3 linked regions of the Homo sapiens genome follow. The protein of the gene in region 2 purifies or fractionates together with the protein of the main gene of each other region. This does not show direct contact. Each region holds a gene or a part of one and is shown on either strand. Other genes may lie near its edges.

What was found.
Region 1: the proteins of TBC1D13 (region 2) and ARMC1 fractionate together in Homo sapiens (co-fractionation; one large-scale study listed by BioGRID). This does not show direct contact.
Region 3: the proteins of TBC1D13 (region 2) and WDR12 fractionate together in Homo sapiens (co-fractionation; one large-scale study listed by BioGRID). This does not show direct contact.

Annotation. Positions count from the first base shown.
Region 1 is NC_000008.11:65,606,678-65,610,177, reverse strand, and holds part of ARMC1 (armadillo repeat-containing protein 1), read left to right. Parts: intron 1-3,500.
Region 2 is NC_000009.12:128,800,525-128,804,252, reverse strand, and holds part of TBC1D13 (TBC1 domain family member 13), read right to left. Parts: intron 1,004-3,728; coding exon 793-1,003; intron 298-792; coding exon 134-297; intron 1-133. UniProt on the Homo sapiens protein: Acts as a GTPase-activating protein for RAB35. Together with RAB35 may be involved in regulation of insulin-induced glucose transporter SLC2A4/GLUT4 translocation to the plasma membrane in adipocytes.
Region 3 is NC_000002.12:202,884,118-202,887,845, forward strand, and holds part of WDR12 (ribosome biogenesis protein WDR12), read right to left. Parts: intron 419-3,728; coding exon 278-418; intron 187-277; coding exon 81-186; intron 1-80.

The sequences.
Region 1 (3,500 bases), on a different chromosome or scaffold from region 2:
TGCAGTGAGCTGAGATTGCGCCATTGCACTCCAGCCTGGGCGACAGGGCGAGATCCCGTCACACACACAAAAAAATTTTAATTTTGTCTATATTTTTAGTTGTTTAATTCTAGAGGCTAAATCTGGTCCCTGTTAATCCATCTGGACTGCAGCTGGAAGTTCCCCTGAAGTTACCTTGCACAGAGAGAAGTTATATAACTTTACATATTTAGGGGTAGCAGTTGGTAGATTACCACTTACCTCTTTAGCAATGCCAGGTAGGTTATATTAGATTATTCACAGCTTTTTTCTTTTTCTTTTCTTTTTTTTTTTTTTTTTTTGAGACAGAGTCTTGCTCTGTCCCCCAGGCTGGAGTGCAGTGTCGTGATCTCGGCTTACTGCAACCTTTGCCTCCCAGGTTCAAATGATTCTCCTGCCTCAGCCTCCCCTGTAGCTGGGACTACAGGTGCCCGCCACCATGCCCATCTAATTTTTGTGTTTTTAGTAGAGACGGGGTTTCACCATATTGGCCAGGCTGGTCTCGAACTCCTGACCTTGTGATCCACCCGCCTTGGCCTCCCAAAGTGTTGGGATTACAGGCGTTGAGCCATGGCGCCTGGCCCACAGCTTTTTCTAGTTGTGTTTAGGTGCTTAGGCTCAGGATATGGGGTTTAGTAAATAAGCCTTCCATATGCATATTGTCAGACCCAAATCAGTCCACAGCTATCTTACTGGAAGTGGGGTCACAAGGCAATTTCTAGAAAGCAAGTTCTGATAAAGGTAAATTGATTCACTGGAAGATCTTAAGATATATAAAATATCTCCAATACCATGTGTTTAATTTTAGTGAATAAGAATAATATAGTTTCTTTTTAAAGCTAGCACAAATCAAGTAATAAAACCCAGCAAAGCACACACAAAAATATAGGCTAGCCAGGTGTGGTGGCACATGCCTGTAATCTCAGCTATATGGGAGGCTAAGGCAGGAAGATTGCTAGAGCCCAAGAGTTCAAGACCAGCCTAGTCAACATAGCGAGATTCCGTCTCAAAAAAAAAAAAAAAAAAGAGCAGAAACCAAACAAACAAATATATAGGCCAATATATAGTAAAAACATGATTACCAAGTCCAAAATGAAATATTAGCAAGTTAATTCTAGTACTGTACTATCATGTTAACTTTTTTTGGTGACATAGCCTGGTACTAGTGATAAGTTTATTTCATCGATTCTCTCATTTGTTTCTGACAGCACAGAGAGATGTATATCTTCTTTCTTTCTTTATTTTTTTTGAGACAGAGTCTCACTCTGTCGCCCAGGCTGGAGATCAGTGTGACACGATCTTGGCTCACTGCAACGTCCACCTCCCAGGTTCAAGCAATTCTCCTGCCTCAGCCTCCCAAGTAGCTGGGATTAAAGATGCCCACCACCATGCCCGGCCAATTTTTTTGTATTTTTATAGAGACGGGGTTTCACTATATTGGCCAGTCTGGTTTTGAACTCCTGATCTCAAGTGATCTGCCTGCCTTGCCCTCCCAAAGTGCTAGGTTATAATAGAAGGGGAAGTTGAGTTTAGAATGGTCAAATAACTTAACTGTTTACTCTACCTATGTAACTTTAGCTTAGTCAACATTTTTTGGACTAGGTAGTGTGACTTCAGAATTGAACTCTTTTTCGAGACAGAGTTGCTCTTTTGCCCAGGCTGGAGTGAGGTGGCGTGATCTCAGCTCACTGCAACCTCCACCCCCTGGGTTCAAGTAATTCTCGTGCCTCAGCCTCCCAAGTAGCTGGGATTACAGGCACCCACCACCACGCCCCGCTAATTTTTTTGTATTTTTAGTAGAGACAGGGTTTTGCCATGTTGGCCAGGCTGGTCTTGAACTCCTGACCTCAGGTGATCCACCTGCCTCGGCCTCACAAAGTGCTAGGATTACAAGTGTGAGCCACCGCGCCTGGCCCAGAATCGAACTTTTAATCACAATATTATAATTTCCTAGAAACAATCTAGTTTTATCCTGGAGTTGTAAATATGATTTAACATAGTGAAATATTTTAGTATAATATCAGTAAGTCAATAATTTGATAATTTGCTATTGATATAGCTGTAAATATAGAAAATCCAGGAGAATGATCTGAAATTTCTTAAAAATATTTTAAAAATCCAGTGACATTATTAAATATATGGAAATCAGTTACTTCTTAAAAGGAGAAAAGTAGTTTTACTCTCCCAAACAAAACAAACAGCTAGGAAGAGTGCAGGGGTATTTTTTCTTTTTTTCTTTTTGTTTTTTTAAACTTAATGACCAGTGTGATAGTAGCAAGGGTATTCTTAATAAGAAAATACAAGACTTAATAAAAAAAATTAAAGGTCTTCAGTATTATAAGAAGACTGGAATAAATGGAATGAAATGCCTGTTTCTGAAAGTTTGTAAGGATGTTAGTTCTTCCTAAATTTGTGGACTTAAAATAATGCCAATCAGTCTGATGATTTTGGAACTTTATTTCCTGATCTGAAAGTTCACATGGTAGAATGTACTAATTTTTACAATAAAAAGGAGCACCTAATGTTAGGCATTATTTTAGATACCAGGGATACAGCGATGACCAAAAAGCAAAACTTTTTGCTCTCTTGGAGCTAGCATAGTTGGAGGAGGCAGGCAATAAGCTTGCTAAAAAAGTGTGTTAATTTATGTTAAAATAAAGATAAATTAGACTTATGAATCTCGTTTCTCACTGTTGCATGTGGTTGGCATTTAGTACCAGACTCTACCTGTGGTAAATCAGGCAAGTTGTTTTTCAACTTTTCACTTTCCTCACATTTAAAATAAGGGATCAGATTAATAGTATCCTAACTTATATATATTGTGTGAGCTTTACTTCACTTTCAAGTTTACCTGGTGTTGAATATGTGGAAGAGATAAACATGGTGCTATTTGGCACCAGTCCTCTAAGGGGCTTCACCAAATGCAGGCCCCTGCAGAGCAGGGTCCAGACACAGTGCACTAGATGAGCCCACTGTGGGCCTGTGCTGTGCCACAGACTGACGTGTCCCACGTCTCCCTGAGTAGTGTTGAAATGCAGAAGTAGGGAGATGAGCAATGGTGTGAGCAGTTGTTTTGAAGGATGTGGAAATAAGTTTGAAAACTGGATATAGTCTACAGATTTGGCACGTGGGTCAGTTGCAGATTGACCCCTCAGAAATATAAATCAAAACTTGGTCTCAATACAGAAATCAGAAAATGTAGAGAGTGTGATTTGGTGTGTGGGCCAGAGGTGGAGGGAGCTATGAGGAGAAAATGCAATTACTTTTTCCATTTTCACTTTGGATCTTGTATTGAGATGACCACTTGATGGTCAAGTGGATATGTCTGACAGACAAATAAGAAAGTCATATTGGAGTTAGTAATGTTAGTGATGGCTAAAGTGATGAGAATAGTCTTCTGAGGTTTGAAGCAGAAAGAAAATCAGTTTAGGAACTGGACTTTGGAGTTAAGGTGAGACAAAGCTGGAATAATCAGTGGGAAA
Region 2 (3,728 bases):
CAGCGTCCCGGGCAGCAGCAGCAGCAGCTACTTCTGACCCCCAGACTCAAGCGAGACCTCGCCCTGGGCTGGGATGGCACAGCAACTCTCTGCCTCCTGTCCCTTTCCACCCGTCTGTTCCTGGGGTCCTCACCAGTTTCAGGTAGAGCTCCACATCCTTATCTTTCAAGGTGGAGTAAACCTTCTCCATCTTGTAGGTGATGCCACACTGCGAGTCATCCAGGCTCTTGATAAAGTTGTCCCGGATCTCGGCCATGAGGTTGGTGAAGCAGAAAAAGGTGTCTGCCTCGGCGTGCTCTGGGAGAGAGCAGGATGGGGGCAGAAGTGGCGCACTCCAGGCCCACCCCACCTCTCACCTACCAGACATCTGCCCTGCTCTGAGCCCCGCCGAGTTGCCCCATCCTCATGGTCTGGCTCAGTCCTTCCTCTGTCCTTGACCCCTCTCCACCCCCAGGCTAAAGACATCGCCTCTTTCTTCTCACATCTGGCAATACTGTACATTCACTTAGCAGTTTATTACACACTCTCCTGATGACAATTTAAAAATCATTATTTAAATCTTATAATTCGGCTTCCTACATATCCACCTTCTCTATCAGAATTAAATTACAAATATCAAGAGATCAGTAAACAACCAACATTCTAGAAGATCACAGCTGCAAAGGATCTCAGAGATGATCCAGGCCAACTCCTCATCTGGCAGAGGGAGAACAGAGGCCCGAGAGGGAAAGTGAGGTGCACAGCCTGACACGGGCCAGCAACGAGGGATGTGGGCACCAAGAGCCTTCTTACCTTTCCACTCACTATTGGGGTCGGTGGCAAAGGTGTAGTAGAGGGGCCCCACGATTTCATTCATGCCTTGCACATAAGCGATGCCAGGGTTGAGCTTGGCGTAGATGAACAGGATCCGCTCCACCACCTCCCAGTGGGCCTCACAGCCATTGGGCAGCACCTCATACTCATTTAGGGATGATGGCACAGAGTTCTTGTGTGGGGAGCTCATCTGGAGGAGAAGAGGAGGAGCCCATCAAGAAAGACAATGCTGGGGTCAGTGGCTCATGCCTGAAATCCCAGCACTTTGGGAGGCTGAGGTGGGAGCTGAGCCCCAGTGGTCGAGGCTGCAGTGAGCCGTGATTACACCATTGCATTCCAGCCTGGGTGATAGAGCAAGACCCTGTCTCAGGAGAAAAAAACAAAAACAAAAAAAGAGACAACATGGGCGGGCCACAATAGCTCATGCCTGTATTCCCAGCACTTTTGGAGGCCAAGGCAGGAGGATCACTTGAGCCTAAGAGTTCAAGACCAGCCTGGGCAACATAGGGAGATCCCGTCTCTACAAAAAATGTAAATGTTAGCCGAGTGTGAAGGCACGCACCTGTGGTCCCAGCGACTTGCGAGGCTGGGGCAAGAGGATCACTTGAGACCACGAGGCTGAGGCTGCAGTGAGCTATGATCACATCACTGCACTCCAACCTGGGTGACAACAAGACACTGTCTCAAAAAAAAAAAAAAAAATGGACAATGTGAAGGAGGACAATGTGTTCTTGCCAGAAATGTAAATGTTTACTTTTAAGCCTGGACCTATCTAGCATATGGGACATACACTGGCACAGAGGAACAAGTCAAACGCCACCATGAGGAAACAAGGAGACAAACCTAGAATATGGGACATTCTGCAATACAACAAATGGTCCTAAAACCTAACTTATGGTGCTAAAAGTCAGAGCAGTGAGAAGTACTAACTAGGAAGGGGCATGCAGGAACTTTCTGGATGTGGACATGTTCTGTATCTTGACTGACTGGCACTTACACAGGTACACACACAAGAAAAACATTCTCTAATTGTACACGTAATTGCACGTAAGTTACATTTCAATTTAAAACAAAAACTTTAGGGCCGGGCACGGTGGTTCATACCTGTAATCCCAGCACTTTGGGAGGTCAAGACGGGCAGATTACCTGAGGTCGGGAGTTCAAGACCAGCCTGACCAACATGGAGAAACCCTGTCTCTATTAAAAATACAAAAAAATTAGCCAGGCGTGGTGGCGTATACCTGTAATCCCAGCTACTCAGGAGGCTGAGGCAGGAGAAGCACCTGAACCCAGGAGGCGGAGGTTGTGGTGAGCCGAGATTGCACCATTGCACTCCAGCCTGGGCAACAAGAGTGAAACTCCATTTCAAAAAACAAACAGGCTGGGTGCGGTGGCTCACGCCTGTAATCCCAGCACTTTGGGAGGCTGAGGTGGGCAGATCACGAGGTCAGGAGACCAAGACCATCCTAGCTAACACGGTGAAACCCTGTCTCTACCAAAAATACAAAAAATTAGCCAGGCGTGGTGGCGGGCACCTGTAGTCCCAGCTACTCGGGAGACTGAGGCAGGAGAATGGCATGAACCCAGGAGGCGGAGTTTGCAGTAAGTGGAGATCGTGCCACTGCACTCCAGCCTGGGTGACAGTGCGAGACTCCGTCTCAAAAAAAAAAAACAAAAAACAAAAAACAAAAAAATCTTAAATATGTCAAAAACAAACAACTGGCCAAGCCCAAGACTTTTCTTTCTTTTATTTGCCCCCCTGAGACAGAGTCTTGCTCTGTCACCCAGGCTGGAGTGCAGTGGTGCGACCTCAGCTCACTGCAACCTCCACCTCCCAGGTTGAAGTGATTCTCCTGCCTTAGCCTCCTGAGTAGCTGGGAGTACAGGCACCCACCACCATGCCCAGCTAATTTTTTGTATTTTTAGTAGAGACAGAGTTTCACCATGTTGGCCAGTATGGTCTTGAACTCCTGGCCTCGTGATCCGCCCGCCTCAGCCTCCCAAAGTGCTGGGATTACAGGCATGAGCCACCGCGTCCAGGCTGGCCAAGCCTTTTCAAAAAGTCAGCTGTTGAGGGGATGGGGTTGGGGAGGGGAGGCCTAGTCCAAATCAAGAGACCAAAGAAAGAGAATATCCAAAGATACCACTGGCACCAGCTGAGGACATCTCAATTGTTCATGGGTTGGGTATCAGGTGATATTATGGACTCATGGTTAATCTTCCCAGATGTGCTAATGGTAAGTAGGAGAATGCCCTTCTTCTTTTTTTGAGATGGAGTCTTGCTCTGTCACCCAGGCTGGAGTGCAATGGAGTGATCTTGGCTCACTGCAACTCTGTCTCCTAGGTTCAAACTATTCTCCCACCTCAGCCTCCCAAGTAGCTGAGATTATAGGTGCTCACCACCACGCCTGGCATTTTTTTGTTGTTGTTTTGTATTTTTAGTAGAGAGGGGGTTCCACCATGTTGGTCAGGCTGGTCTCAAACTCCTGACTTCAGGTGATCCACCTGCCTTGGCCTCCCAAAGTGTTGGGATTACAGGTGTGAGCCACCGCACTTGGCTGACAATGCCCTTATTCTCAGGAGATCCTACCGAAGTACTCGATGGTAAAAGGTCAGACACCTGCAACTTACTCTCTCTATATATAATACACACACAAATAAAGCAATGTGAAAAACGTTAACAACTGTTGCATTTAGATGGAAAGTATACAGATAGTTATCCAGTGTACTCTCCTTTCAACTTTCCTGAATGTTTGAAAATTTTCATAAGAAAAGGTTGGAGGCCAGGCACAGTGGCTCACACCTGTAATCCCAGCACTTTGGGAAACTGAGGTGGGTGGATCACTTTAGGTCAGGAGTTCGAGACCACCCTGGCCAAAAATCTCTACTAAAAATACAAAAATTAGCCAGGTGTG
Region 3 (3,728 bases), on a different chromosome or scaffold from region 2:
CCTTTTTTTGTACATCTCCAGAGAGATGAGAAATAGATGTTATTCACACATATATTCCCCCAGTGGTTTACATGACTCACCTTTAGTTCGGGGATCCCACAGTCTGATATGCCTATCTGTGCTTCCAGATGCTAAACGTTTACAAAGTGGAGAATAGGAAATACAATTAAACACTTTATTTCCTGTCTGAAAAAGAAAAGGAAAGAACATTAACCATGGTAGACTAAAAACCATCTCTAGAAGTTTATCACTTAAAAGAACACTGAATTTGTCTTACCAAAGTTGACTTAAGACTGCCAGACTCAACATCCCACACTCTAATTGTATGGTCCCAAGATGCACTGCAGATTTCTTCAGCATCTGACCACAGAACTGAGGAAACTGCCTCCATGTGGCCAGAGAGGGTCACTATGGGAGTCTAGAAAGGAAGAACCCCAAAAGGGGAAAGTGTTTTCATTACAGAATAATTGAAACAATAATAGTACTTATTACTTACAAAGCCCACATGACAGAGACAAACTGCCCATCTTTCATATCCTGACTTATTTCTTCCTTTACAATGGAATGGATATTTCTGTTTTTATTTTATACAAGACACTGAGGCTGATAAAGATAACTTGCCCAAGGTCATAGAGCTTATAAGTGGCAGACTTGAATTTGACCCCAAATATTACTCGTCTGTAGTCTTTCCACTATATTCTGCTGCTCCTCATCTGTTCTACTTTTCATTTTGATCAGCATTAACACAAACTTAACTCTCCCAGCTGACAAATGTTATATTAAAGATTAGTGCTGGATGGTTTCCCAATGGCCTTGGACTGATGGATACAGTTTCTCCCCCCCTCTTTTCTTCTTGCCTGTAGTTCTCAAAATAACTATAGAATATTCTGGGAATATAACATCCTGAGATAGGGAGCAACTGGCCAGCATAGCCTGGGGGCTCTATTCCAGCTCTTAGAAACAGGATGTCCTTCAAACTTTGCCCAGAGTCAAGTGACCCCAGGGTACAAAAACCAGGGCAGGCTGTTTTTTGGGATCCCTCAGCTGTACTGCAAGTGAGGCATATGCAGTTAACACTCCATTTGCCCCTGGCAGCTTTCTTGAGCCTTGGGGGACTGGCTCACAATGGATCCTCGGCTTCTGTTGTCCCTTGCTGCCTATCTGTAAGTAATAAACCCGTTTCATGTAACGTGTTGCGTGTGTGCTCTTCCTCACCAGATTCAGGCAACTGGTAAAACTGCAGCCCAGGATGCGGTGGGTGAAAGTATTCACACTTCTATTCCTGGTGCCTGGCATACGATGACCTTTACTATCCTCCAACCAGTGGGAATCCTCCCTTAGACTGGTTATTAGTGAAACTGCTTCACAGTTAACACAAAAACCTTTGTGATCAGACAGATATAGGTTTCAGCACCTTCACACAAAATATGCCGCCAATTTCTACACAACTCCTCCAGGTAAATTAATCTCAGTAAGTTATTCTTACCACCTCATTCCTCAGTATCTTTAAGTCCTATTATTTAATCTTTAAATAATGTACACAGTTCACTTATTAATACTCCACAATCTCTAATGTCTTTCTAAACTAAAAGCCCCAAACTAGGTAACTAGGTAGAGTACCTACCTTAAATATAAGGAGTATATAAAAGAGAGTGGGAAGAGCCAGGCACAGAGGCTCATACCTGTAGTCTCAACGCTTTGGGAGGCTGAAGCAGGAGGATCACTGGAGCCCAGGGGTTTGAGAACAGCCTAGGCAACATAGTAAGACCCCGTCTCTACTAAAAATAAAATTAGCTGGGCTTAATGACACATGACTATAGTCATATCTATTTGGGAGGCTGAAGTAGAAGGATCACTTGAGCCCAGCAGTTTGAGGCTACAGTGAGCTACCATCACGCCACTGCACTCCAGCCAGGCCCACTCCTGCAGTGGGCCACTGCACTCGGCCCACAGTTGTTTTAATAAGGGGTTGTTTTTTACAACACTTTATAATTGTAATTTAGGTTTTTGTGTGAACAAGAGAGATCTTGTCTCTAAAAAAAAAAAAAAAGAGAGGAGGCCACACACGGTGGCTAACACCTATAATCCTAGCACTTTGGGAGGCCGAGGTGGGTGGATCACTTGAGCTCAGGAGTTCAAGACCAGCCTGGGCAACATGCTGAAACCCTGTCTCTACAAAAAAATATAGAAATGAACTGGCTGTGGTAGCACACTCCTGTAGTCTCAGCTACCTGAGAGGCTTACATGGGAGGATTGCTTGAACCTGGGACGTGGAGGTTGCCATTAGCTGAGATTGTGCCACTGCACTCTACCCTGGGCAACACAGTGAGAGTCTGTCTCTTAAAAACAAACAAACAAACAAAAAAACTAGCTGGGTGCGGTGGCTCACACCCGTAATCCCAGAACTTTGGGAGGCCGAGGTGGGTGATCACCTGAGGTCAGGAGTTCAAGACCAGCCTGACCAACATGGAGAAGCCCCGTCTCTACTAAAACTACAAAATTAGCCAGGCGTGGTGGTGCATGCCTGTCATCCCAGCTACTCAGGAGGCTGAGGCAGGAGAATCGCTTGAACCCAGGAAGCAAAGGTTGCAGTGAGCCGAGATTGCGCCACTGCACTCCAGCCTGGGCAACAAGAGTGAAACTCCATCTCAAAAAAAAAAAAAAAAAAAAGAGGAAAAGAATTCTGGAATAGGGGATAGTCAATCTACTTTTATATAACTTTGCTACATTTAACTTCCTTAAATATTGCCTCATCTGTAATATTTAGGAGTTATAACTGGATCAGAAAGCAAACTTTTTCAGTAAAGAACCAGCAAGTAAATATTTCAGCCTTTGGAGACCATACACAGTTTCTGTTGTATATTTTTCTTTGCTGAGTAATATTCTGCTGTATGAATAATACCACAGTTTTGTTTTTTGTTTTTTTGAGATGGAGCTTCACTCATCGCCCAGGCTAGAGTGCAATGCACAAGCTTGGCTTACTGCAACTTCCACCTCCCAGGTTCAAGCGACTCTCCTGCCTCAGCCTCCCAAGTAGCTGGGATTACAGGCACGTGCCACCACGCCTGGCTAACTTTTCGCATTTTTAGTACAGACGGGGTTTCACCATGTTGGTCAGGCTGGTCTTCACTCCTGACTGCAGGTGATGTGCCCGCCTCAGCCTCCCAGAGTGCTGGGGTTACAGGTGCCCCACTGCACTTGGCCCACAGTTGTTTTAATAAGGGGTTGTTTTTACAACACTTATAATTGTAAAAACCATCCTTAGCTCTCTGTAGCACAAAAATAGGTGACAGCCAAACTGGCTGTTGGGCTGTAATTTGCCAACTCCTAGACCAAATGATCCCTGAGGTCTCTTAGCATTTTCCTGAAAGAAGTAAAGGAACCTGATAGAGGAGTGAGAAACAGAACAATCTCTGATGTCATCTAAAACAAAATGAAAAGGTGACATAGAGGTAATCAGAAGGCTCTAGAATAGAAAATGACATGGTAGGCCGGGCGCGGTGGCTCACGCCTGTAATCCCAGCACTTTGGGAGGCTGAGGCGGGTGGATCATGAGGTCAGGAGATCGAGACCATCCTGGCTAACAAGGTGAAACCCCGTCTCTACTAAAAATACAAAAAATTAGCCGGGCGCGGTGGCGGGCGCCTGTAGTCCCAGCTACTCGGGAGGCTGAGGCAGGAGAATGGCGTGAACCCGGGAAGCGGAGCTTGCAGTGAGCCGAGATTGCG